7 linked regions of the Homo sapiens genome follow. The protein of the gene in region 3 purifies or fractionates together with the protein of the main gene of each other region. This does not show direct contact. Each region holds a gene or a part of one and is shown on either strand. Other genes may lie near its edges. The genes, in order: ANKRD28, PDGFRA, CGAS, TRIM25, MAP7D1, SMARCA5 and CNP.

Evidence for each region.
Region 1: the proteins of CGAS (region 3) and ANKRD28 purify together in Homo sapiens (affinity purification with mass spectrometry, with the first as the bait; one large-scale study listed by BioGRID). This does not show direct contact.
Region 2: the proteins of CGAS (region 3) and PDGFRA purify together in Homo sapiens (affinity purification with mass spectrometry, with the first as the bait; one large-scale study listed by BioGRID). This does not show direct contact.
Region 4: the proteins of CGAS (region 3) and TRIM25 purify together in Homo sapiens (affinity purification with western blotting; 2 studies listed by BioGRID, with this or other methods). This does not show direct contact.
Region 5: the proteins of CGAS (region 3) and MAP7D1 purify together in Homo sapiens (affinity purification with mass spectrometry, with the first as the bait; one large-scale study listed by BioGRID). This does not show direct contact.
Region 6: the proteins of CGAS (region 3) and SMARCA5 purify together in Homo sapiens (affinity purification with mass spectrometry, with the first as the bait; one large-scale study listed by BioGRID). This does not show direct contact.
Region 7: the proteins of CGAS (region 3) and CNP purify together in Homo sapiens (affinity purification with mass spectrometry, with the first as the bait; one large-scale study listed by BioGRID). This does not show direct contact.

The regions. Positions count from the first base shown.
Region 1 is NC_000003.12:15,672,480-15,675,979, reverse strand, and holds part of ANKRD28 (serine/threonine-protein phosphatase 6 regulatory ankyrin repeat subunit A), read left to right. Parts: coding exon 1-82; intron 83-2,789; coding exon of another isoform or gene 2,790-2,899; exon of another isoform or gene 2,900-3,500. UniProt on the Homo sapiens protein: Regulatory subunit of protein phosphatase 6 (PP6) that may be involved in the recognition of phosphoprotein substrates. Involved in the PP6-mediated dephosphorylation of NFKBIE opposing its degradation in response to TNF-alpha.
Region 2 is NC_000004.12:54,295,293-54,298,745, forward strand, and holds the end of PDGFRA (platelet-derived growth factor receptor alpha isoform 1 precursor), read left to right. Parts: 3' UTR 1-2,953; downstream 2,954-3,453. UniProt on the Homo sapiens protein: Tyrosine-protein kinase that acts as a cell-surface receptor for PDGFA, PDGFB and PDGFC and plays an essential role in the regulation of embryonic development, cell proliferation, survival and chemotaxis.
Region 3 is NC_000006.12:73,431,798-73,435,297, reverse strand, and holds part of CGAS (cyclic GMP-AMP synthase), read left to right. Parts: intron 1-3,500. UniProt on the Homo sapiens protein: Nucleotidyltransferase that catalyzes the formation of cyclic GMP-AMP (2',3'-cGAMP) from ATP and GTP and plays a key role in innate immunity.
Region 4 is NC_000017.11:56,897,050-56,900,549, reverse strand, and holds part of TRIM25 (E3 ubiquitin/ISG15 ligase TRIM25), read left to right. Parts: intron 1-1,369; coding exon 1,370-1,435; intron 1,436-3,500.
Region 5 is NC_000001.11:36,162,660-36,166,159, forward strand, and holds part of MAP7D1 (MAP7 domain-containing protein 1), read left to right. Parts: intron 1-3,500. UniProt on the Homo sapiens protein: Microtubule-stabilizing protein involved in the control of cell motility and neurite outgrowth. Facilitate microtubule stabilization through the maintenance of acetylated stable microtubules.
Region 6 is NC_000004.12:143,527,202-143,530,701, forward strand, and holds part of SMARCA5 (SWI/SNF-related matrix-associated actin-dependent regulator of chromatin subfamily A member 5), read left to right. Parts: intron 1-666; coding exon 667-822; intron 823-1,381; coding exon 1,382-1,513; intron 1,514-3,256; coding exon 3,257-3,325; intron 3,326-3,500. UniProt on the Homo sapiens protein: ATPase that possesses intrinsic ATP-dependent nucleosome-remodeling activity.
Region 7 is NC_000017.11:41,969,795-41,973,294, reverse strand, and holds part of CNP (2',3'-cyclic-nucleotide 3'-phosphodiesterase), read right to left. Parts: intron 1,404-3,500; coding exon 1,264-1,403; intron 1-1,263. UniProt on the Homo sapiens protein: Catalyzes the formation of 2'-nucleotide products from 2',3'-cyclic substrates. May participate in RNA metabolism in the myelinating cell, CNP is the third most abundant protein in central nervous system myelin.

The sequences.
Region 1 (3,500 bases), on a different chromosome or scaffold from region 3:
GTTGCTGCCCGAAATGGGCTAACAATGGTGGTTCAGGAACTTTTGGGAAAAGGAGCAAGTGTGCTTGCAGTAGATGAAAATGGTAAGTTGGTTCTATATTCTCTTCCCTTAACCTAGAGCTTTTATCTTTTGATCCATATTTGAAGAGAAATAAACTTGGATATTTTTTATTGGTCAAAGAGGAGAGCTAAAGTTAATATTGAAGAGTAGTTTGTGGCAAAGGAATAAGGGCAAAAGAAATAGGAAAAGTTATCTAACAGATGTACTTCCGAATTCCTATATCATCTGTTACAGCAAAGTTAGTATTTACTGTTTATACTTGCCACTTTCTGTTGTTTTAGTAGCCAAAGATTTTGTTCTTTCAGCAAATATGTATCAAGATCCTAGTTAAGTACTAATATTCTTATTTAAAGCCAGTGTTTCTACTCATGCACTAGATCCTGTCCCCTTTTGCCTACTTCATAATGTCAGTTTGACAGTTCTCTTTTGTGTCCTGGAGTAACATTTTTCGCTCTCTTCCTGTATTATTCCTCTCAGTATATAAACATTAGTTCCCTCATCCTTAAAAAATAATTTATAAATCTCACTGCTCCTGCCAGCTACTGCCATATTTCTCTGTCCCCTTTTGCAGCAAAACTACTCTCTTGCTGTCCGCAGTTATTCCTCTCATTCTTCCATTCTTTTGTTGTTGTTGTTGTTGTTTGTTTTTGAGACGGAGTCTAGCTCTGTTGCCCAGGCTGGAGTGCAGTGCCATGATCTCGGCTTACTGCAACCTCCGCCTCCTGGGTTCAAGCGATTCTCATGCCTCAGCCTGCCCAGGTAGCTGGGATTACTGACACCTGCCACGACGCCTGGCTAAATTTTGTATTTTTAGTAGAGACGGAGTTTCACCATATTGGCCAGGCTGGTCTCAAACCCCTGACCTCAGGTGATCTGCCTGCCTTGGCCTCCCAAATTGCTGGGATTACAGGTGTGAGCCACAGCGTCCAGCCTCATTCTTCCATTCTCTCTTAATTTCCGTATAGTCAGGCCTTCTCCCCCTCACCCCTACACATAGCAAAACTGTTCCCATCAAAACCACCAATGACTTCTACTGTGTTAACTACTACTTAGCTCTCATTTTACTTGATAGATCAGCTTTTGGCACAACTGATCGTTTCCTTTGATAAATTTTTTTACTCTGCTTTTTGAACCCCACTCTTCCTTGGTTTTCCTTCTACATTACTAGTTATTCCTTCTTAATTTCTTTTACAAAATTTCTCCCTCTTCTTCTAGGACTCAATTCTTCGTTCTTTTTGCTTTCTCTATCTACATTGACTCCCTAGTGCTCTCATCAGTTCCTTTGGTTTTAAATACTACCTATAATGCTGAGGATTCCCAGATTTATATCTCCAGCCCAGACTTCTCACAGTCTCTATATATCCACGTGCCTAATTGACACATCCATGTGGATGTCTGATAAACAGCTTAAACCTAGAATGTGCAGAACTGAACTGTTGATCCTTTCCCACTCCCCTTGCCAGACCTACTCTCCCCACAGCATCATGCTCTCTCCATTGAAGACAATTCTCATTCTTAACAGTGGCTCAGGGCAAAACCCCTAGAGTCATCCTTGATTCCTCTCACTCATACTCAATGTATAGTCCATCAGCATATACTATTGACTCCACCTCTAAAGTAGATCTAAAGTATGCCCACTTTTTTCTTTACTGCTACCAGACTGACCTGGATCCTTTTAAAGTATATGAGAACATGTTACTCTTGAATTTCGGTTCTTCTTCTTTTTTTTTTTTTTTTTTTTTTTTGAAGAGGCAGGGTCTCACTCTGTTGCCCAGACTAGAGTACAGTGGTGAGATCATAGCTGATTGTAACCTTGAACTCCTGGGCTCAAGAGAACCTCTCACCTCAGCCTCCCAAGTAGCTAGCACTATAAGTATGCATCACCAGGCCTAGCTAATTTATTTTTTGTGCTGACAGACTCTCACTATATTGTCCAGGCCGGTCTTGAACTCCTGGCCTCAAGCAATCCCCCCACCTCAGCCTCCCAGAGTGCTCCACCTGGCCCCACTCATAGTTCTTAAAATGACCTTACTAGGCCCTACATGATGTGTCCTCCACCTTGTTACCTTTCTGATATTATTTCCTACTCTTCTCCTTTCTCTACTTCATTCTGCCATGCCAGCCCCTCCATAGCAGGGTTATACATGCATTGTGATCTTCATTCTGGCTGTTTACTCTGCCTGAACACTCTGTCCCCAAACATCCCATGACTAAATTCGTCACCTGTTTCAAATCTTAGCTCCAGTTTCATCTTCTCAATGAAGCATATTCTAACTATTCTTTACTACAACTTGCTAGATACCCCTACCATAGCATTCTCAGTCCTTGTTAACCTGCTCCACTCTTTCCTCTTTTTTTACATAAAGCTTTTAACATATTGTATATAATGTACTTTTTTGTTATGTTGATTTTGTGTCTTCTCCACTAAAGTGAATGTAAGCTCCACAAGAACAGTGAAATCTTTGTCAGTTGCATTCACTGATATATTCTTAGTGTTCTAAATAGTGCCTGAGCAAGTGGAGGCTCAGTGAATATTTGCTGCATGAGTGATTATGCCAAGCACTGTACTAACTTCTGATGATATAGTGTAAAATAAGACATAGTCTACTCCCTTGAATGGAGATAAGAGTGCAAACAGCCTATTAACGATGCACTTAAAATAGTTTAATTGGAATAAGCATAGAATGCTATGAGAGTACTTAAGAGGGTCTTCAAATCCTTTCTTGCAGGATCAGAGAAGGCATCCCAAAAAATGCAACTGCTAAGCCAAAATCCAAAGGATAAGGAGAAAGTGGGGGAGGAACTTTCTAAGCAAAGAGAGTGGCATGTTAAGAGATAAAACTGGCCGGGCATGGTGGCCCATGCCTATGGTCCTAGCACTTTGGGAGGCACAAGGCGAGTGGATCACCTGAGGTCAGGAGTTCGAGACCAGCCCCGCCAACATGGCAAAACCCCGTCTCTACTAAAAATACAAAAATTAGCCAGGTGTGGTGGCATGTGCCTGTAATCCTAGCTACTTGGGAGGCTGAGGCAAGAGAATCGCTTGAACCCAGGAGGCAGAAGTTGCAGTGAGCCGAGATCATGCCAGTGCACTCTAGCCTGGGTGACAGAGCCAGACTTCGTCTCAAAAAATAACCCCCATGCAGAGGAGAGGAGCCTGTTTTTAGTCATATTCTGACTAGAAAACACACCTGAAACAAGCTTCTTTCCCCACTCCCGCTCTCATCCAAGGCATCCTGGCCTATGTAATGGGTTGTTCTGCCTGCCAGCAGCAGGAACAGCAGCAGGCACCTTTAGAAGAACCCTTGAAAGAAGTGTGGGCAGTGAAGCACTCCCCCAGCTACTTTGAACAAATAAAATTTAATTAAAAATACGGACAGCCTTCAGCCACTGCTGCCAAACTTGGAAGGACATCAGTTGTTCTCTTTGACCCTTGACAA
Region 2 (3,453 bases), on a different chromosome or scaffold from region 3:
CTTCCACTTCTGGGGCCACCTCTGGATCCCGTTCAGAAAACCACTTTATTGCAATGCAGAGGTTGAGAGGAGGACTTGGTTGATGTTTAAAGAGAAGTTCCCAGCCAAGGGCCTCGGGGAGCGTTCTAAATATGAATGAATGGGATATTTTGAAATGAACTTTGTCAGTGTTGCCTCTTGCAATGCCTCAGTAGCATCTCAGTGGTGTGTGAAGTTTGGAGATAGATGGATAAGGGAATAATAGGCCACAGAAGGTGAACTTTGTGCTTCAAGGACATTGGTGAGAGTCCAACAGACACAATTTATACTGCGACAGAACTTCAGCATTGTAATTATGTAAATAACTCTAACCAAGGCTGTGTTTAGATTGTATTAACTATCTTCTTTGGACTTCTGAAGAGACCACTCAATCCATCCATGTACTTCCCTCTTGAAACCTGATGTCAGCTGCTGTTGAACTTTTTAAAGAAGTGCATGAAAAACCATTTTTGAACCTTAAAAGGTACTGGTACTATAGCATTTTGCTATCTTTTTTAGTGTTAAAGAGATAAAGAATAATAATTAACCAACCTTGTTTAATAGATTTGGGTCATTTAGAAGCCTGACAACTCATTTTCATATTGTAATCTATGTTTATAATACTACTACTGTTATCAGTAATGCTAAATGTGTAATAATGTAACATGATTTCCCTCCAGAGAAAGCACAATTTAAAACAATCCTTACTAAGTAGGTGATGAGTTTGACAGTTTTTGACATTTATATTAAATAACATGTTTCTCTATAAAGTATGGTAATAGCTTTAGTGAATTAAATTTAGTTGAGCATAGAGAACAAAGTAAAAGTAGTGTTGTCCAGGAAGTCAGAATTTTTAACTGTACTGAATAGGTTCCCCAATCCATCGTATTAAAAAACAATTAACTGCCCTCTGAAATAATGGGATTAGAAACAAACAAAACTCTTAAGTCCTAAAAGTTCTCAATGTAGAGGCATAAACCTGTGCTGAACATAACTTCTCATGTATATTACCCAATGGAAAATATAATGATCAGCAAAAAGACTGGATTTGCAGAAGTTTTTTTTTTTTTTTTCTTCATGCCTGATGAAAGCTTTGGCGACCCCAATATATGTATTTTTTGAATCTATGAACCTGAAAAGGGTCAGAAGGATGCCCAGACATCAGCCTCCTTCTTTCACCCCTTACCCCAAAGAGAAAGAGTTTGAAACTCGAGACCATAAAGATATTCTTTAGTGGAGGCTGGATGTGCATTAGCCTGGATCCTCAGTTCTCAAATGTGTGTGGCAGCCAGGATGACTAGATCCTGGGTTTCCATCCTTGAGATTCTGAAGTATGAAGTCTGAGGGAAACCAGAGTCTGTATTTTTCTAAACTCCCTGGCTGTTCTGATCGGCCAGTTTTCGGAAACACTGACTTAGGTTTCAGGAAGTTGCCATGGGAAACAAATAATTTGAACTTTGGAACAGGGTTGGCATTCAACCACGCAGGAAGCCTACTATTTAAATCCTTGGCTTCAGGTTAGTGACATTTAATGCCATCTAGCTAGCAATTGCGACCTTAATTTAACTTTCCAGTCTTAGCTGAGGCTGAGAAAGCTAAAGTTTGGTTTTGACAGGTTTTCCAAAAGTAAAGATGCTACTTCCCACTGTATGGGGGAGATTGAACTTTCCCCGTCTCCCGTCTTCTGCCTCCCACTCCATACCCCGCCAAGGAAAGGCATGTACAAAAATTATGCAATTCAGTGTTCCAAGTCTCTGTGTAACCAGCTCAGTGTTTTGGTGGAAAAAACATTTTAAGTTTTACTGATAATTTGAGGTTAGATGGGAGGATGAATTGTCACATCTATCCACACTGTCAAACAGGTTGGTGTGGGTTCATTGGCATTCTTTGCAATACTGCTTAATTGCTGATACCATATGAATGAAACATGGGCTGTGATTACTGCAATCACTGTGCTATCGGCAGATGATGCTTTGGAAGATGCAGAAGCAATAATAAAGTACTTGACTACCTACTGGTGTAATCTCAATGCAAGCCCCAACTTTCTTATCCAACTTTTTCATAGTAAGTGCGAAGACTGAGCCAGATTGGCCAATTAAAAACGAAAACCTGACTAGGTTCTGTAGAGCCAATTAGACTTGAAATACGTTTGTGTTTCTAGAATCACAGCTCAAGCATTCTGTTTATCGCTCACTCTCCCTTGTACAGCCTTATTTTGTTGGTGCTTTGCATTTTGATATTGCTGTGAGCCTTGCATGACATCATGAGGCCGGATGAAACTTCTCAGTCCAGCAGTTTCCAGTCCTAACAAATGCTCCCACCTGAATTTGTATATGACTGCATTTGTGTGTGTGTGTGTGTTTTCAGCAAATTCCAGATTTGTTTCCTTTTGGCCTCCTGCAAAGTCTCCAGAAGAAAATTTGCCAATCTTTCCTACTTTCTATTTTTATGATGACAATCAAAGCCGGCCTGAGAAACACTATTTGTGACTTTTTAAACGATTAGTGATGTCCTTAAAATGTGGTCTGCCAATCTGTACAAAATGGTCCTATTTTTGTGAAGAGGGACATAAGATAAAATGATGTTATACATCAATATGTATATATGTATTTCTATATAGACTTGGAGAATACTGCCAAAACATTTATGACAAGCTGTATCACTGCCTTCGTTTATATTTTTTTAACTGTGATAATCCCCACAGGCACATTAACTGTTGCACTTTTGAATGTCCAAAATTTATATTTTAGAAATAATAAAAAGAAAGATACTTACATGTTCCCAAAACAATGGTGTGGTGAATGTGTGAGAAAAACTAACTTGATAGGGTCTACCAATACAAAATGTATTACGAATGCCCCTGTTCATGTTTTTGTTTTAAAACGTGTAAATGAAGATCTTTATATTTCAATAAATGATATATAATTTAAAGTTATACTAAGGTTTCAGCATTTTTGTTTTTAGTTTAATCATAAGAATTAAAGCAATCCTGTTCTATTTACTTTCTTAGCAACATTTGTAGGACTCTATATTAGGCCTTTTTTTTTTTTTTCCTGAGACGGAGTTTTGCTCTTGTCATCCAGGCTGGAGTGCAGTGGCGTGATCTCAGTTCACTGCAACTTCTGCCTCCCGAGTTCAAGCAATTCTCCTGCCTCAGCCTCCCAAGTAGCTGGGATTATAGGCGCCTGCCACCATGCCTGGCTAATTTTTGTATTTTTAGTAGAGATGGGGGTTTCATCATGTTGGCCGGGCTGGTCTCGAACTCCTGACCTTAGATGATCTGCCTGCCTCGGCCTCCCAAAGTGCTGGGATTACAGGTGTGAACCACCACGCCTGGCCTTTATTAGGCTTTTGATGAACCAATAGAATATCTAAGGTTTAAGACATTATATGAGCTAGATTGTTCCACGACACAGTATTTGACTTAAAGATGAT
Region 3 (3,500 bases):
AATGATATCTCAGTGTAGTTTATTTAAAAATAAACTTTTTGTTTTAGCATAGTTTTGTATTTACAGAAAAATTGTGAAGATAGTACAGAGAGTTCCCGTATAACCCCATACCCATTCCCCTGGGGTTTTTTCTGGGGGAGGTAGTGGGGCAGAGTTTCACTATGTTGCCCATGCTGGTCTTGAACTGAGCTCAATGATCCTCCCACCTCACCTTATCAAGTAACTGGGACTACAGACACGTGCCACTGCAGCACCCCCATTTTCCTATTATTAATATCTCACATTAATACAATACATTTAATAATTAATAAACCAATATTGATATATTATTGTTAGCTAAGGGCTATATCTGCTGGGCACAGTGGGTCTTGCCTGTAATCCCAGCACTTTGGGAGGCCGAGGTGGGCAGATCACCTGAAATCAAGAGTTCGAAACCACCCTGGCCAACATGGCAAAACCCCGTCTCTACTAAAAAAATACAAAAATTAGCCAGGCGTGGTGGCATGTGACTTAGTCCCAGCTACTCAGGAGGCCGAGACAGGAGAATCACTTGAACTTGGTGGGTGGAGTTGCAGTGAGCCAAGATCATGCCACTGCACTCCAGTCTAGGAGACACAGCGAGACTCCATTAAAAAAAAAAATTATATACTTTATCCAGATTTCCTTAGTTTTTCTTAATGTCCTTTTACTGTTCCAAGATCCCATTTAGGATACCATATTGCATTTAGTTGTCATGTCTCCTTAAGCTACTCTTGACTGTGACAGTTTTTTGGTTTTAACAGTTTTGAGGAGTACTAGTTAGGTATTTTGTAGAATGTCCTTTACTTGAGATTTCTTTATTATGTTTCTTATGATTAGATCAGAGTTATTGGTTTGGGGGAGGAAGGTCACAGAGGCAAAGTGCCATCCTTATCAAATTTTATCAACGGTACGTGCCACCTTTCTTTACAGTCATGTACAGTTGACCCTCAGGATTGGCTCCAGGGTACCCTGCAGACACCGAAGTCCACAGATGCTCAAATCCCTTACATAAAATGATATAATACAGTTGGCCCTCCATATCTGTGGGTTTCAATTCACGATTGGTTGAATTCTCAGATGTGAAACCCTCAGATACAGAGGGCCAACCGTATTGTGTAGCTATCCCTGAACTCTTTATTCTGTCCCATTAAAATCTTTGTCTATCTTTGTACCATGTTGTTGTACATAATGTAGCTTTATAATTAGTCTCAATATCTTTTAGGGCAAGTTCTACCACTTCGTTTTTCTCCAAGGGTGTCTGAGAGAGTCTTGACCCTTTACATTCTCATATAAATTTTGAAATCAGCTTTTCAGATTCCACAAAATACTTTTTGGAATTTTGATTGAGATAATGTTGAATCTATAGATAAATTTGGGGCCAGGAATGATGACTTATGCCTGTAATTCCAGCACTTCAGAAGGCTGAGGAAGGAGAGTTGCTTTAGGTGAGGGGTTCAAGACCATCTTGGACAACACTGTGTAAAAACTCTAGCCAGGCGTGGTGGCTCACGCCTGTAATCCCAGCACTTTGGAAGGCCAAGGTGAGTGGATTACGAGGTCAAGAGATCGAGACCATCCTGGCCAACATGGTAAGACCCCATTTCTACTAAAAATACAAAAATTAGCTGGGCATGGTGGCACGTGCCTGTAGTCCTAGCTACTCGGGAGGCTGAGGCAGGAGAATCGCTTGAACCCAGGAGGCAGAGGTTGCAGTGAGCCAAGATCACGCCATTGCACTCCAGCCTGGTGACAGAGAGAGACTCCGTCTCAAAAAAAAATTAAAAAAAAAAAACTCTCTATAAAAGTTTTTATAGAGAGTTGTGAGTCTTCATCTCTATAAAAACTTTTTAAAAATTAGCCAGGCGTGGTGGTGTGCACTTGTAGCTTGTAGTCTTAGTTACGCAAGAGAATCACTTAAGCTCAGGAGTTCGAGGTTACAGTGAGCTATGATCTTGCCACTGCACTCCAGCCTGGGCAACATAACAAGACACTGTCTGTATTAAAAAAAAAAAACATGGGAGAGAGTTGATATGTTAACAATATTGAGTCTCCCAATCCACTTATTTACATCTCCTCTAATACTTCCCAGCTTCATTCATTAGCATTTTCTCTGCAGAGGTTTTGTATATCTTTTGTTAATTTATTCATAGGTAATTGATCTATTTTAAAACTATTTATTTATTTATTTATTTTGAGATGGAGTCTCGCTCTGTCACCCAGGCTGGAGTGCAGTGGTGCGATCTCGGCTCACTGCACCCTCCACCTCCTGGGTTCAAGCGATTCTCCTGCCTCAGCCTCCTGAGTAGCTGGGATTACAGGTGCCCACCACCGTGTCTGGCTAGTTTTTGTATTTTTAGTAGAGATAGGGTTTCACCATGTTGTCCAGGCTGCTCTCAAACTCCTGACCTCAGGTGATCTGCTCACCTCGGCCTCCCAAAGTACTGGGATGACAGGCGTGAGCCACCGCGCCTGGCCAAAACTTTTTATTATGAAAATTTTAAACCAGTACCAAAGGAGACTGGGCCAGGAGTGTTGGCTCATGCTTGTAATACCAGCATTTTGGGAGGCTGAGGTGGGTGGATCACTTGAGCCCAGGAGTTCAAGCCTGGGCCACGTGACAAAACCCTGTCTCTTCAAAAAATACAAAATAAATTAGCTGGGTGTGGTAATATGCACCTGTTGTCCCAGCTATTTGGGGGGCTGAGGTGGGAGAATCACTTGAGTCTAGGAGGTTGAGGCTTCTGTGAGCCGAGATCATGTCACTGCGCTCCAGCCTGGGTGACAAAGTGAAACCTTGTCTTAAAAAAATAATCAATGACTGGGAGCGGTGGCTCACACCTGTAATCCAAGCACTTTGGGAGGCCAAGGCGGGTGGGTCACCTGAGGTCAGGAGTGCGAGACCAGCCTGGCCAACATGGTGAAACCCCATCTCTACTAAAAATACAAAATTAGCCGGGCATGGTGGCGCATGCCTGTAATCCCAGCTACTCAGGAGGCTGAGGCAGGAGAATCACTTGAACCTGGAAGGCAGAGGTTGCAGTGAGCTGAGATGGTGTCACTGCACTCCAGCCTGGGCAACAGAGCGAGACTCAATCTCAAAAAATAAAAATAAATAAAAATAAATGTATAAACAAATAATAATTTTCTTATATTAGCTGGGCACAGTGGCTCACAGCTGTAATTCCAGCACTTTGGGAGGTGGGAGGATTGCTGGACCCCAGGAGTTTGAGATCAGCCTGGGCAAGGTGGAGAGACCCCGTCTCTACAAAAAAATCCAAAAATTAGCCAGCCATGGTGATGTATGCTTCTGGTCCCGCTATTGGAACGGCTAACATGAGAAGATTGCTTGAGGCTGGGAAGTCGAGGTTTCAGTGAGCTGTGTTCACGCACTCCAGCCTGGGTGATAGAGGGAGATCTTGTCTCAAAAAATGAAAGAAAAAAGTAATAATTCCCTAATATCAAACACCTATTCAGTATTA
Region 4 (3,500 bases), on a different chromosome or scaffold from region 3:
TCCCCTGCCACTGCTCCCACTCCTCAGACTGGGCCCAGGGTCCTTGTCATCCTCTTGGGACTCTTGCATGGGTAGTATCGCATTCTTCCTTGGGATCCCCGTATATCTCCCTCATTAGGTTGTGATCTCTGTGAGGTCAGGGGCTGCGGCTTATTTATTTATTTATTCAGGATCTTGCTCTGTCGCCCAGGCCGGAATGCAATGGCGTGATTATAGTTCACTGTAACCTCAAACTCCTGGGATTAAGTGATCCCTCTGCCTCAGCCTCCCGACTAGCTAGGACTATAGATACACACCATCATGCCCGGCTAATTAAAAAAAAATTTTTTTTTTTTTGAGACGGAGTCTCGCTCTGTCACCCAGGCTGGAGTGCAATGGCCCAATCTCTGCTCACTGCAACCTCTGCCACCCAGGTTCAAGCATTTCTCCTGCCTCAGCCTCCTGAGTAGCTGGGATTACAGGCATGTGCCACCACACCTGGCTAATTTTTGTATTTTTAATAGAGACATGGTTTCACTACTTTGGTCAGGCTAGTCTTGAACTCTCGACCTCAAGTAATCTGCCTGCCTCAGCCTCCCAAAATGCTGGGATTACAGGCGTGAGCCACCGGGCCCAGCCTAAAAAATTTTTTTTGTAGAGCCAGGGTCTCGCTAAGTTGTCCAGACTGATCTTGAGCTCCTGGCTTCAAGTGATGCTCCTGCCTTGGCCTCCCAAATCATTGGGATTACAGGCTTGAGCCACTGTGCCTGGCCTGTCTGATTTTTCTTCAACGCTATTTCCCTAGTGCCTAGCACAGAGCCTGGCCCATAGTAAATCTCTGTTGTGTAGTCCAAGATTGGGCTTGAATCTCAGCTTGGCCTGCCGAGTGTCCTTGCAGAAGGGCTTCTGAAATCGGTGGCGGTGCAGCCCCATTGTGGAAGTGCTGCGTGGGGGCAAAGCTATAGGTGGCTGGTATGTGGGAGGAGGGGAGAGAAAGAATAGTGGGAAAGGAACAAGTGTTGACCCAGCCTCCGCTACATGACCTTGATCTCATTCAGGAGTCACATCAACCATGAGCAAGGTGAAGTCATCCCCATTGTGTGCTCGAAGAAACCAAAGCTCAGAGAAGTCTCAGAGGCCACAGAGCTGGGTGCTGGTGGAAAAAAGACTTGGCCCTTGCTACATTTTAAAAAGTCAGAGAAAAAAGGGAATACACCAAACTGGTTCTTAGATCACCTTGTTTGTAGCTCTTGTAAGCGATGGGATGGGGAAGGTCGGAGGAAATGGCTGTCTGTGTAAACCCTCTGCCTGCCCACCGACCCATGGCAAAGCTGGCTGCTAGGGTCAGTGAGAGGAGCCGCACACACTGAGCCCTTCTTCTCTGACACAGGTGACCCTGGAGAGCATGACCCAGCGTCCACACACAAATCCACACGCCCTGTGAAGAAGGTCTCCAGTAAGTAGCCCCACCCCTGTCTCCATGGCAACAGCATGGCTGTGGCCTCCCCAGGCTCTGGCCAAGTCACTTCCGGCCCATCCCGAGTCACTGTGGGGCCTGGACCTCAGTGGGAAAGAAGTTGGTGGCAGTCCCCACTGCGGGGGGCTGTAGGGCTGTGGCAGAAGCTCCGCTGTCCATCAGCATTGCACGTTTGGGCTGCCTGGAACAGCAAGATGCCTGAGGCTGGCTTGTTTTGAGAAATATTTACTATACCCAAGTCCTTGGGCAGAGCCTTGGGCAAGGAGACTGATGGCGGTCCAGGAAGGGTGGAGGCTAAACCTCCTTGGCATCTCAGCAGTGTTAAGTCTCTGGGTTGTAATGGGCTTCTGCTATTACCATGTTTCTCAACTGTTTTTTTTTTTTTGGTTTCTCACTGTTACCCTCCTCCTGCTCATCCCCAGAACCATTTGAGAAAATTTTTTTCCTAATTACAACCCATGAAATTTTAATACCACCCATCTACTGCATAACTGTTTATGTTTGTGCTTTTACACATAAAAAGAGTAATCTTTTTTACTCCCCCTCCCCCAAGGATCCATTTTTGCCCTCCTAGGGGTACTATCCCCCTCATTGGGCAGGCACCTGCCATTGACATGGGGGTTGAGGAGAAGAGTGGTCCTGTTCTGCAAATGTGGACAATAGTGATATCGAGGCCACAGGATGATTCTGAGTGATGAGGGGACACTGATTGTGAGAGCTCTTTATGAGCCATATACCACTGAGATGTCCATATACCACTGAGATGTCCATATACCACTGAGATGTCCATATACCGCTGACATGTCCATATACCGCTGAGATGTTCATATACTGCTGACATGTCCATATACCGCTGAGATGTCCATATACTGCTGACATGTCCATATACCGCTGACATGTTCATATATCGCTGAGATGTCCATATACCGCTGACATGCCCATATACCGCTGACATGTTCATATACCACTGACATGTCCATATACCACTGAAATGTTAGCTGTCATTGCTTCCCTGAAAAGTTGGTGTGAACCCAGGAGGGCTGGCTGCACACTGCTGGTGTTGGGGGGATGAGAGAGCCAGGGCTTGCTCTTTGTTGTTGTTGCTTGTGCTTAGTGTTCAGGTCACCTGTAGCAGGCAGAGTGTGGTATCGGTCCCCGAATGGAACAGAGTCAGGGCTGGGATGCCTGGTGCAGATGGAGGAGGGAGCCCTTAGCTGGGCCGGAAAACCTCGAAGGGTACTTTGTGTGAAAAGAGGAGTGAAAGAGGAAGTGGAAAGGTACTGTTGACCTGTGTCCTTCCCCAGTCACCTTCCTCTGAAAGCTCCTCCCTTAGTATGAATGAGGTAGGGATGCCGGCCAGCAGGCAGGTGTGTTCCCCAGTGAGGTGAGGTCCTCATGTCACAGCAGAATGACACCCTGGAGAATAAAGTTCGGGAATGAATCAAGGCTCCTCTAGGCTGAAATGGGGAAATAGGGGAGGGGGTATGGAGTAGTCCCAGTGCAGAGAGATGTCTAAGGGTAGGTGATGAGGGAGGTGCCTGTGCCCTAGATTGATGTCACAGCCTGGGCCTCCCAAGATGCTGGTCCACAGGGAGTGGGTGGGAAAGTGGCAGAAGGGGAGGAAATGGGAGAGTGAGCGACTGTGAGTGATGTGACTTCGAAGTAGGAGAAGCGGTAGCAAGGGGGCTTTGTGGTGTGATGGGGGTCTGGGGGAGGGAGAGGGTAATAGGAGAGAGCAGGGCTTATCTGTAATGTCAGGTGTCCTGCAGGTGGGCAGGGATATGATTTCAAAAACGCCCCTTTTTGTTCCAGTGTTGTGGAAGGTGGCAAAGAAGGAAGCTGGGATCTTCTAGCCCACTTGAGTGGACTTTGGACTCACCTGGAGGGCTTGTACATCACAGATTGCTGGGTCTCACCCCCAGCCTTTATGATTCAGTGGCTCTGGCTTGGGGCCCAAGAATTTGCATTTACTATTTTTTAAGAGACAGAGTCTCGCTCTTTTGCCTAGGCTGGAGTGCAGTGGTGCGAACAGAACTCATTGCAG
Region 5 (3,500 bases), on a different chromosome or scaffold from region 3:
CTTCAGTAAATTAGTTTGGGCCTGGAAACTGGCTGGGGACATGCAGGTTCTGAGATGAACATGACATTTAGTGTTTAGAGAGACTAAGCTTTGGAGCAGCTTGAGGGTCTAAATACACACTAGCTAGGTAGCTTTCTACAGTACCCCCACCCACATATCTACATACCCAGCCACCCACCCACCCATCGGACATTCATTAAACAGACACAGAACTCCCACTCTGTGCCAGGCAGGTCCTGTATAAGACTCTGGGGCTGCAAAAAGGACTAAGACTGAGTTTCTTCTCTTGATAAGCTCTCACACTGACAAGGGCAGGGGGTGGCAGGCAAACAGAAAAGCTAGACTGAGTTATCAGTGTTGTGAGAGGAATATTTGGCCCAACAAGAGTTGTTGGGGTGGGAGGAGGGAGAGACAAAAGGAAAGGACTGCCAGCTCTCAGAGGGTGGAGATGGGGTGTTAGTATTCTGAGACATGTGACAGTCTCTCTGAGGGACTTGGCCCTGATCTTTCTGCAGACCCCAGGCACAGCCCCTCTTGGAGCTCTTAGGAAGACAGGACTTTTTGACCCCACAATGCAACCCACCACTGCACTTTTGCCCTGCTAATGCTCTTTGTGCCAAGAAATAAATACAAATTATTTGTCTCTTATCTCATTCTTAACAAATACTTCTGGTAGATATTAGTGTAGCAAAATAAAACCAACAGTGGCAAAACCTCACAATCTGGCATAGACCAAAAATAAGATAAAATTAAGTAGCCGAAGGATCATATTTGATGGTTAAAAATGAGAATGATCATAAATAGATTAACCATACTGTATAGATAACTAACCAAGGAGTTTTGGCTTAATGTGATTTGCTCCATAACACTGTGCCAATGACATTTCATCAGGGTTGGCATAATTGTGAAGAAAATATTTGTATTCAGGGTCAATAGTGTGCCAGGTCACAAGAGGAGTTCCAAACTTCTTGTTTGCCTCTTGAGAAGTTTTTCTTGTTGAGCTGCTGGAGTAAACACTCATTATTATTTTTATTAACTTCTACCTGTGTGGCTTAGTCCAGGAAGCTGCCCAAACACTATTGAGATGGAGTTGTTTTGCTTCTCTTCAAATGTTTATCTTTTTGCTATAAGTTGCCACATAGATATATACTTTTTTTCTTTTTTTTTTTTTTTTTTTTTTTTTTTGGAGACAGCATCTGATTCTGTCGCCCAGGCTGGAGTGCAGTAGTGCAGTCTCAGATCACTGCAGCTTCCACCTCTGGGTTCAAGGGATTCTTCTCTCAGCCTCCCAAGTAGCTGGGACTACAGGTGTGCACAACCACGCCCAGCTAATTTTTGTAGTTTTAGTAGACATGGGGTTTTGCCATTTGCCCAGGCTGCTCCCGAACTCCTGGGCTCAAACGATCTGCTCTCCTTGGCCTCCCAAAGTGCTGGGATTACAGGCGTGAGCCACTGCGCCCAGCCTAGATCTACTCTTTATTAGAGTAAAAATCTTCTATATGCTTTAGGCTAGGGCAGCCTCATAGTATAGCACTTTATTTGTGTTATACTGTTTATTCAAATATTTTATGACTATCTCCGTATACTTGGCACTGTGGTAGCTGCTGGTGATGCAGCAGTGAGCAAAGTAGACATGGCCAGCTCTTGTGGGGCTCCCTCACCTTCTAGGAGGAGGCTGACAATAAGGAAAGAACCATGCAAGGAAGTTTAAAATCATAACAGTGACAGTGTTCCAAAGGCACATGAAACCATGACTATATACAACAAGGGAATTTATCCTAATCAGAGAAGCCAAGGAAGGCTTCCATGAGGAAGTGATGACTGAACTAACATATGTAGGGCAAATAGGAGTTAGCTAAGAAAAGAGAGTATGTGCAAAGGCCCTGTGGCAGGAGGGAGTGTGGATGGTCATCAGCATTAAAGGAAGGTCAGTGTGGCTGGAGTTCAGAGAGCAAGCGGGGAGCAGGGTAGGAGAGGAGATCCAAGAAGTAGGGGGAGGGAGTCAGGAACTTCAGATTATACTATTATACTGGACTAGTAGGGTGAGTTCAAGAAGGGGAAGCCACTGACAAGTTTCAAGTGGCAAAGAGCACCGTGATCAGATTTGCATTTGCTCTGGCTGCTCAGTGGAGCAGAGAGTGGGAATGGGTACAGGCGAGCAGTGAGAGGACTTTGTAGTCATCCAGGTGAGAGCGATGATGGTGATGATGATATCTGCCTGGGTGTAGTTCATTCATTTCTTCATTCAACAAATAGTTATGGAGCACCTATGTGCCAGGCTCTGTTGGCCCTAGAGATAGACCAGCTAACAAAATAGGCAAAAATTTGTGCCCTCATAGAGATTATATTCTAGCAGTGGGAGACTTAAAATGGTGTTAATGCCTATGGAGAAAAAGAAGACTTGGAAAGAAAAATCTAGTTGGAACTGGGAGGGAGACTTCAACTGCAGTTTGTAGTTTTATTTAATTTTTTTTCTTTTTCTGAGACAGCATCTTACTCTGTTGCCCAAGCTGGTATACAGTGGTATAATCATCGCTCACTGTAGCCTCAAACTCCTGGGCTCAAGGTATCCTCCTGCCTTAGCATCCTAACTAGCTGAGACTACAGGTGTGCACCACCATGCCCAGCTGTTTTTTATTTTTTAGTTGAGATAGGGTCTGGCTGTGTTGCCCAGGCTGTTCTCAAGCTCCTGGCCTCAAGTGATCCTCCCACCTCAGTCTCCCAAATTGCTGGGATTACAGGTGTGAGCCACCTTGCCTGGCCTTTATTTAATTTTATTTAAAATTTTTCTTTTTTTTCTTTTTCTTTTTTTTTTTTTTTAGAGACAGGGTTTTGCTTTGTCACCCAGGCTGGAGTACAGCAGCATGCTCATAGTTCACTGTAACCTCAGTCTCTATTTCAGCATGTCATGATGCCTGGGTAATTTAAAAAAATTTTTTTAGAGATGGAATCTCACTATGTTGTCCAGGCTGATCTCAAACTCCTGGCCTTAAGGGATCCTCCTGTCTGGGTCTCCCAAAGTGTTGGGATTACAGGCATAAGCCACCGCACCACGCCTGCAGTTTGTAGCTTTTTTTTTTTTTTTTTTGGAGACGGAGTCTCACTCTGTCATCCAGGCTGGAGTGCAGTGGCACGATCTTGGCTCACCGCATCCTCTGCCTCCTGGGTTCAAGTGATTCACCAGCCTCAGCCTCCCGAGTAGCTGGGATTACAGGCACATGCTACCACACCCAGCTAATTTTTGTGTTTTTTAGTAGACGGGATTTCGCCATTGTGGCCAGGCTGGTCTCGAACTCCTGACCTCAGGTGATCCACCTGCCTTGGCCTCCCAAGGTGCTGGGATTACAGGCGTGAGCCACCGCTCCCAGCCCAGTTTGTAGTTTTAAATAGGGGCTAAGGGAAGGCTCCATTTAAAAGTGACATCAAAATAAAGACCTGAAGGAGGGGAGGGAACGAGGCACGCAGAATCTGGGGGCAGAGAATTCAAGGCAGAGAAACAG
Region 6 (3,500 bases), on a different chromosome or scaffold from region 3:
TGGAAATAATGACATTAGTATATAAAGCTCAGATTTGGAAATTTATTCAGACTCTACTGAATAGCTGTGTACTTGTTTTTTATTTCCTCTTCATTTACCTGTGAGTGATAAGTCTATATTTTTCTCTCCCTTTCTAGTTATGTTGGATATTTTAAGTTATCAATTTTTGTTTGTTTGTTTGGGAGCCCAAAGAGTGGTAATTACTTAACCAGTCTTTGCTTCAGTTTCCTTACCTTTAAAATAATACTATTAGGAATGTGTTAATACATTTATAAACCTGAAAGGAATGCAGATGCCTACTACTGCTAACTATCTTTCCACCCTCTTCCTTTCTTTATGTTAAAACCTCCCTCTTTTTTGTCTAAACCTGCCTCCTAAGAATTTCCCGATCTAGTGGAATTGCAGAAAGACATTTTAAGTGTCTATTGAATTTTTCACTGGTTAACTTTGTCAGTTTTTTAAAACTTAATGGTTCTGACATTTAAATGATTAATGACGTTACTTTAGTCTTAGGAAAGCTGGTTCTAAACGTTTGCATAATATAGCTAGCTACTCTACTCCTTTTTAGTATTCCCACCTCTTTTTATATACTAGATTACTTGTCATCAGTAAATGTAATGCGTAGTTTATTTCTACGTGATGTAATTTTTTTCTCTTGTTACACAGGCTGCTTTTGTCAGAGACGTTTTATTACCGGGAGAATGGGATGTATGTGTAACATCTTATGAAATGCTTATTAAAGAGAAGTCTGTGTTCAAAAAATTTAATTGGAGATACTTAGTAATAGATGAAGCTCACAGGATCAAAAATGAAAAATCTAAGGTAATTTGATACTTAGATGTGAAAAGCCTTCATGTAAGAATTTGATTAAAGTACAGATTTTTTTTTCTTTTAACTTTAAGTTATGAGATACATGTGCAGAACGTGCAGGTTTGTTAACATAGGTATGCATGTGCCATGGTGGTTTGCTGCACCCCATCATCTAGGTTTTAAGCCCCGCATGCATTAGGTATTTGTCCTAATGCTCTCCCTCTGCTTTCTCCCCACTCCCCGACAGGTCCTGGCATGTGGTGTTCCCCTCCCTGTGTCCATGTGTTCTCATTGTTCAACTCCCACTTATGAGTGAGAACATGTAGTGTTTGGTTTTCTGTTCCTGTGTTAGTTTACTGAGAATGATGGCTTCCAGCTTCATCCATGTCCTTGCAGAGGATATAAACTCATTCTCTTTTATGGCTGCGTACTATTCGCTGATGTATATGTGCCATATTTTCTTTAACCGGTCTATCATTGTTGGGCATTTGTGTTGGTTCCAGGTCTTTGCTGTTGTAGATAATGCAATATGCAGAATATTCTAATGGTGTATTTGGTTCTTTTCTTTCAGTTGTCAGAAATAGTGAGGGAATTCAAGACTACAAATAGACTATTATTAACTGGAACACCTCTTCAGAACAACTTGCATGAGCTGTGGTCACTTCTTAACTTTCTGTTGCCAGATGTGTTTAATTCAGCAGATGTAAGTATTTCCTGGTGCTTTCTGGTTAATAATAATATTTTGCTTAATGCTATATATTTTTGTAATAAAAGTGGCCTGCCTTTTAGCATGGCTTGAGGTTATTATTAATTTTTTATGCTTTTATTTACATAGTTAGCCTGGTGTTATCTCCTAGGTTGTCTCTGTATAATGGGAATTTACTTTTGTGCCTTTGGTTTCAATCTTATTTCATTATTATTATTATTATTTTATTTTTTTTGAGACGTAGTCTCACTCTGTCACCTATGCTGAAGTGCAGTGGTGTGATCTTGGCTCACTGCAGCCTCCACCTCCGGAATTCAGGTGATTCTTGTGCCTCAGCCTTCCGAATAGCTGAGATCACAGGTGTGTGCCACCATGCCCGGCTAGTTTCTGTGTTTTTTGTAGAGATGAGGTTTTGCCATGTTGTCCAGGCTGGTCTCAAGCTCCTGGCCTCAAGCGATCTGCCTGCCTCAGCCTCCCAAAGTGCTGGGATTACAGGCACGAGCCACCACACCAGGCCTCAGTCTTCTTTAAATCATTGTTTTCTCTATCTGAAATGGCATAAATTGTCACTCCTATTTGGTAAGTCAGGTTGGCCTGACTTTGTTTCAGTGGCTCTAGGTTGACTGGTTATGTTTTTAAGGTGCTGCTCAAGGTATTCCTGAAGTGATTTGTATACCTCACATTGCTTATGTTTTAAGTCCCAAGGATGACTGTCAAATTTAGTGAAATCTGTCTGGCTTTTCTTATATTATAGTCTAACAAACAAATAGAACCTAATCTTTATGGATTATTTATAGTCATAGAAAGGATAGTAATGGTTAATTAGCTATTTGAACTGTTAATAGTAATATAATAACTATGTCAAGAGTTTGTGCTATTAGAAATTGCAGTTTTTTTTGCCTGGACCAGTGTTTATTTTTGAAGCTTTGTTTGCATAGCTGGCGTCTTATGTGTATTGGAGGGATTTGAAGAGCTCCATGTTAGTATATTTTTGTACAATTAAGTTATAAAAAGGTATTAATTAATTTTGTTTTTTTTCTGTTGAAGATTGTTTTGAAAGAATAGATTGTGTTGTAAAAAGATATTTAATCAGACTCCAAAAGCAATTTTAGCTTCGATTTTATGTATTTTGATGTTTTTGAGATAATTCCTGTTTCTCACTACATTGACACTTTCATTTACTTTAAAGCAGTGAATTCTAAGATTATGTTTACTCAAAAACAAAGCACATATATAATACATATGTTCAAGAGATGAGGTTAGGGAAACTGCCCTTGTTGAAATCGTAACCAAATATTAATGAAATGCTGGTAATTTCAATTTCATTTAGTAAGTTTGATTAAAATTGACATTGTTCGTAAACTTGTATTTGAGTAGTGCGAATGGTCTCAGAGAACAAACTATAAAATGTTTTAATTTTCAAGCTTTTATGAAACTTGAAAGATACTTTACAAGAATATTAATTTTCTAATCCTATAGAACTTGCTCTCCAACTTTTTACTGTGAAACTTGTTATTTTGATGTTTTTGAGAAGAATGTTTAGAAGGTAGTGTGATTTCTGAACTACTTGTTTTAAAATTAGTAACAATGACACATGAAAACCAGGATTGGACTAAGTGATTTTTTTTTGTGGGTTACAATTCAAATTACTAATTCTAGAAATCATTTCTATATCTGGTATTATAGGGTATTTGTTAATATTATCTCTGATCTGAGTATATTTTTTGTTTGTTTATCTAGGACTTTGATTCCTGGTTTGATACAAACAACTGCCTTGGGGATCAAAAACTAGTTGAGAGGCTTCATATGGTAAGTATTTTGGAGTAGTGTTAAAGCATATTTATGATGGGAAAAAGGATAAAGGTTTAAATTAGTAGATTATTTTCCTGTTAATAAAAAACACAATGGCTTAAGAATCAGATCTGCTTGAATTCTGACACTTAACTCTTACATCTTACAATCAGTGTAGGGGGTGATGTGTGGT
Region 7 (3,500 bases), on a different chromosome or scaffold from region 3:
CGCTCCAGGCTCAAGTGAGAAACACGAAGGCGCTCAGACAGGGCCACACGGGGACAGCCGGACTTCCTGAGGGAGCCCAGCTCCCTGCACACTGGCTTCCGGCCTCAGCGGGCTGGCTGACCTCTCGGTGCCTTGGCTTCATCACCCGTAAAACAGGGAGAACCAGAGCCTACCTCAGAGTTAATGTGGTTATGAGAGTGACTAGGTAAACAGCCCACAGGGGTGTCCGCGCACACAACAGCTGCTACTGTTGGCACCGCTCAGCTTCCCCTGGGACCCAGACAGCGCCCTGGAGGACAGGGTGAGGTCAGACTGAGGTCAGACTCGCCCTTGATGGAAACCTGCTCTTACACTTTGGTTCCCATCTGATGATATGTCTGCTTCTATCTGATTCTTTGAGACAGCCCATCCCATCTCAGCATAAACGCTTTTCTATTTTTGCTCACGATCCCTTGTCCCAACAGTGTCTGGCATGAAATGGGTAGTTAATAAATGCTAAATGAAGGCATGGTTAGGGATGGTAGCTCAGGTGTTACATATTCATTCCACTATGCTAGGGTGCTGGAACCACAGGAGTCAACGAAACTTAAAAACTCGCCCTCAGGGGAGCTTCCATTTGGGAGGACACTCTAGTGAACAAACAAACGATTGTGCTAACCTAGGCAGAGAAGTGGGAGAGTGGGCTTGGGGGTGGACACTTGGAAGTTGGAGACTGTGGATATGGGTGACATGCCTGGCATTCAGGGATCACTGTCAGTGGCTGTGGGTGTAAGGTGCCAGCTGTGTGGTGCAGAAAGGTCTCGTACCCATTAGCCAATAAGCTTCATTATCGTATGAAACTCCCTCACTCTGGGGCCAGGCCAGACCTCAGACCTGGGGACAGGGATGGGGACCTCAGTGCACCAGGCTCCCTGGGGGCGAAGGACTCCTAGTCTTTGGAAGGTAAAACAGGCTCAGAGAGACCAGAGCAGGAGCCCACTGTGGACCAGCATTCTCCATGAATCTGCAGAAGGCGAAGGTGCTTGGGGGCAGGTGAATGCACAGGCTGGCAGTACTGCCAGGGCAGGCTCCTTAGAACCTGCGGCTGAGGTCTATGCAGCTACGCCTGGGGACAGGGGAGCTAGGAGGAGGAGATGCCATTTTTCTTGAGCTGCCATCTGGTTTTTGGTCCCTGCCTGGCACCGGTACCTATCTTCAGAAGATGCTGCAGCCCCTTCTCCCCCAACCTCCCACCTCCCCCATGTGTCCCTGGGGAAGACTCACATCTTGTTGAGCGTACTCCTCTGCCCCGGGAGCCTTCCCGTAGTCACAAAACTTGGTTGTGCAATGCAGCACGCCTGGGGGTCTCTTTCCAAAGTAGGTGACCAAGTCCATCTTCTCCCTGGGCTCATCCCCAGGGACGACTGCCGGGAGAAAACGGGTGCAGTCAGGGCAGGGGAGCAGGGGCATACCAACATCCGCCACCAGGACCACCGAGGCCCAGCGCAAAACACTCGGACACTAAGCATCACCTCTCCAGCAACCCACTACAGCTCATTCATTGGTTAGTTGGTCAAACTAATGGCAACTTTAGAGCAATAAAAAGTTAAAATTCTCAGGCCAGGTGCGGTGGTTCACACCTGTAATCCCAGCACTCTGGGAGGCCGAGGTGGGTGGATCACAAGGTCAGGAATTCAAGACCAGCCTGGCCAAGATGGTGAAACCCCGTCTCTACTAAAAATACAAAGAAATTAGCCAGGCGTGGTGGCGGGCGCCTGTAATCCCAGCTACTTGGGAGGCTGAGGTAGAGAATTGCTTGAACCCAGGAGGCAGAGGATACAGCGAGCCGAGATAGTGCCACTGCACTCCAGCCTAGGCAACAGAGCAAGACTCCGTCTCCAAAAAAAAAAAAAAAAAAGTTAAAATTCTCTGGCTTTACATTGTATAGATCTTTCCATCTCTTCTCCAAACTCTAAGGCATTTGTAACAGAGGCAGGCAGTACAGGCCAAGGGAATCTAAGATTTACTAGCACCACGTCTCAAAGGGGAAGCAAGTCATGGGAAGTGGGGTGGAAAGAAAACAGAGGGCTGGGAACAACATGGTACGGTGGAAACAGCCAGAACACAGTGAATATCTCAGCTCTGCCATGTACCAGCCATCGGCCTCGGGCAAGTGACCAACCCTATCTATCAATCCAGCACAACAGTTAGGGTGACCATATACCCCAGTGTTCCCAGGACCACCAGGGAACTATCAGTAGTGCCCCATTTCACTCAGGGGCCCATCTGGACAAGCAGTCACAACGTCACCATCAGTTTAATACACACCTTGCAGGCCTATGGGGGGGCCTCCTGGTACAGGAAGGGTCTTGGACTATAATGGGGTGACATTATGGGGCTGGAAGACACAAAGAGGAGTGGAGTATCTGTGATTTTGATTTCCAGACTCCACACCTGTGGCTGTCTTTGGAGTCACTCGCTTTTTCCTGTTATGTTCTGAATTGAGTCCCCATGAGGATGTCTCGCCCTCCACAGGGGAGGAAGGCCTCTCCTGAGAGCAGCCTTGCTGGCCCATTACATTTCTCCTGCTCTAATCCTGGGCAGAAAAATCCAGTTTTCCTTTACAAATAAAATAGGCTGGGCATAGTGGCTCGCACCTGTAATCCCGGCAATTTGGGAAATTGAGGCGGGGCGTTTGAGACCAGCCTGGCCAACATGGTGAAACCCTGTCTCTACTAAAAATTTATAAATTAGCCAGGTATGGTGGCGGGTGCCTGTAATCCCAGCTACTTGGGTGGCTGAGGCAGGAGAATTGCTTGAACCCGGGAGATGGAGGTTGCAGTAAGCCGAATTGCCCCACTGCACTCCAGCCTGGGCGACAGAGCAAGACCCCCGTCTCAAAAAAAAAAAAAAAAAAGATCTGGCAATCATCCTGTCAAGCTTGATTCGTCCCATCTTGGGCCAAGGGCCCCTCCTTTCTTTTGTGCTACCGACCAGCCTGGTCAAGATGGTGAAACCCTGTCTCTACTAAAAATACAAAAATAAAAAAAAATTAGCCGGGCATGGTGGCAGGCGCCTGTATTCCCAGCTACTTGGGAAGCTGAGGCAGAGAATTGGCTTGAACCCAGGAGGCGGAGGTTGCAGTGAGCCGAGATCATGCCACTGCACTCCAGCCTGGGCAACAGAGCAAGACTCCGTCTCATAAATAAATATTAAAAGCAACTTTGAGCAGTAGTCACTCCAGGGCAGAGCCACCAGCTCACAGGTACAGGGCTTGCTCCTGGCCAATGTCACTGCAAGCACCACAGTTCACTGCAGAGTTCAAGTTTAGGAGCTGAGAAAAAAGCTCTCTGAGAACCCATACAGGCACAAATTCCCTGCTTCTGTGCAATATACACAATGTCAACAAACCAGAGTGGGGCTATTTCAGGCATGAAGATCATCTAAAATTGGGGGTGGCTGGGTGCGGTGGTGGCTCACGCCTGTAATCCCAGCACTTTGGGAGGCCAAGGCAAGCGGAT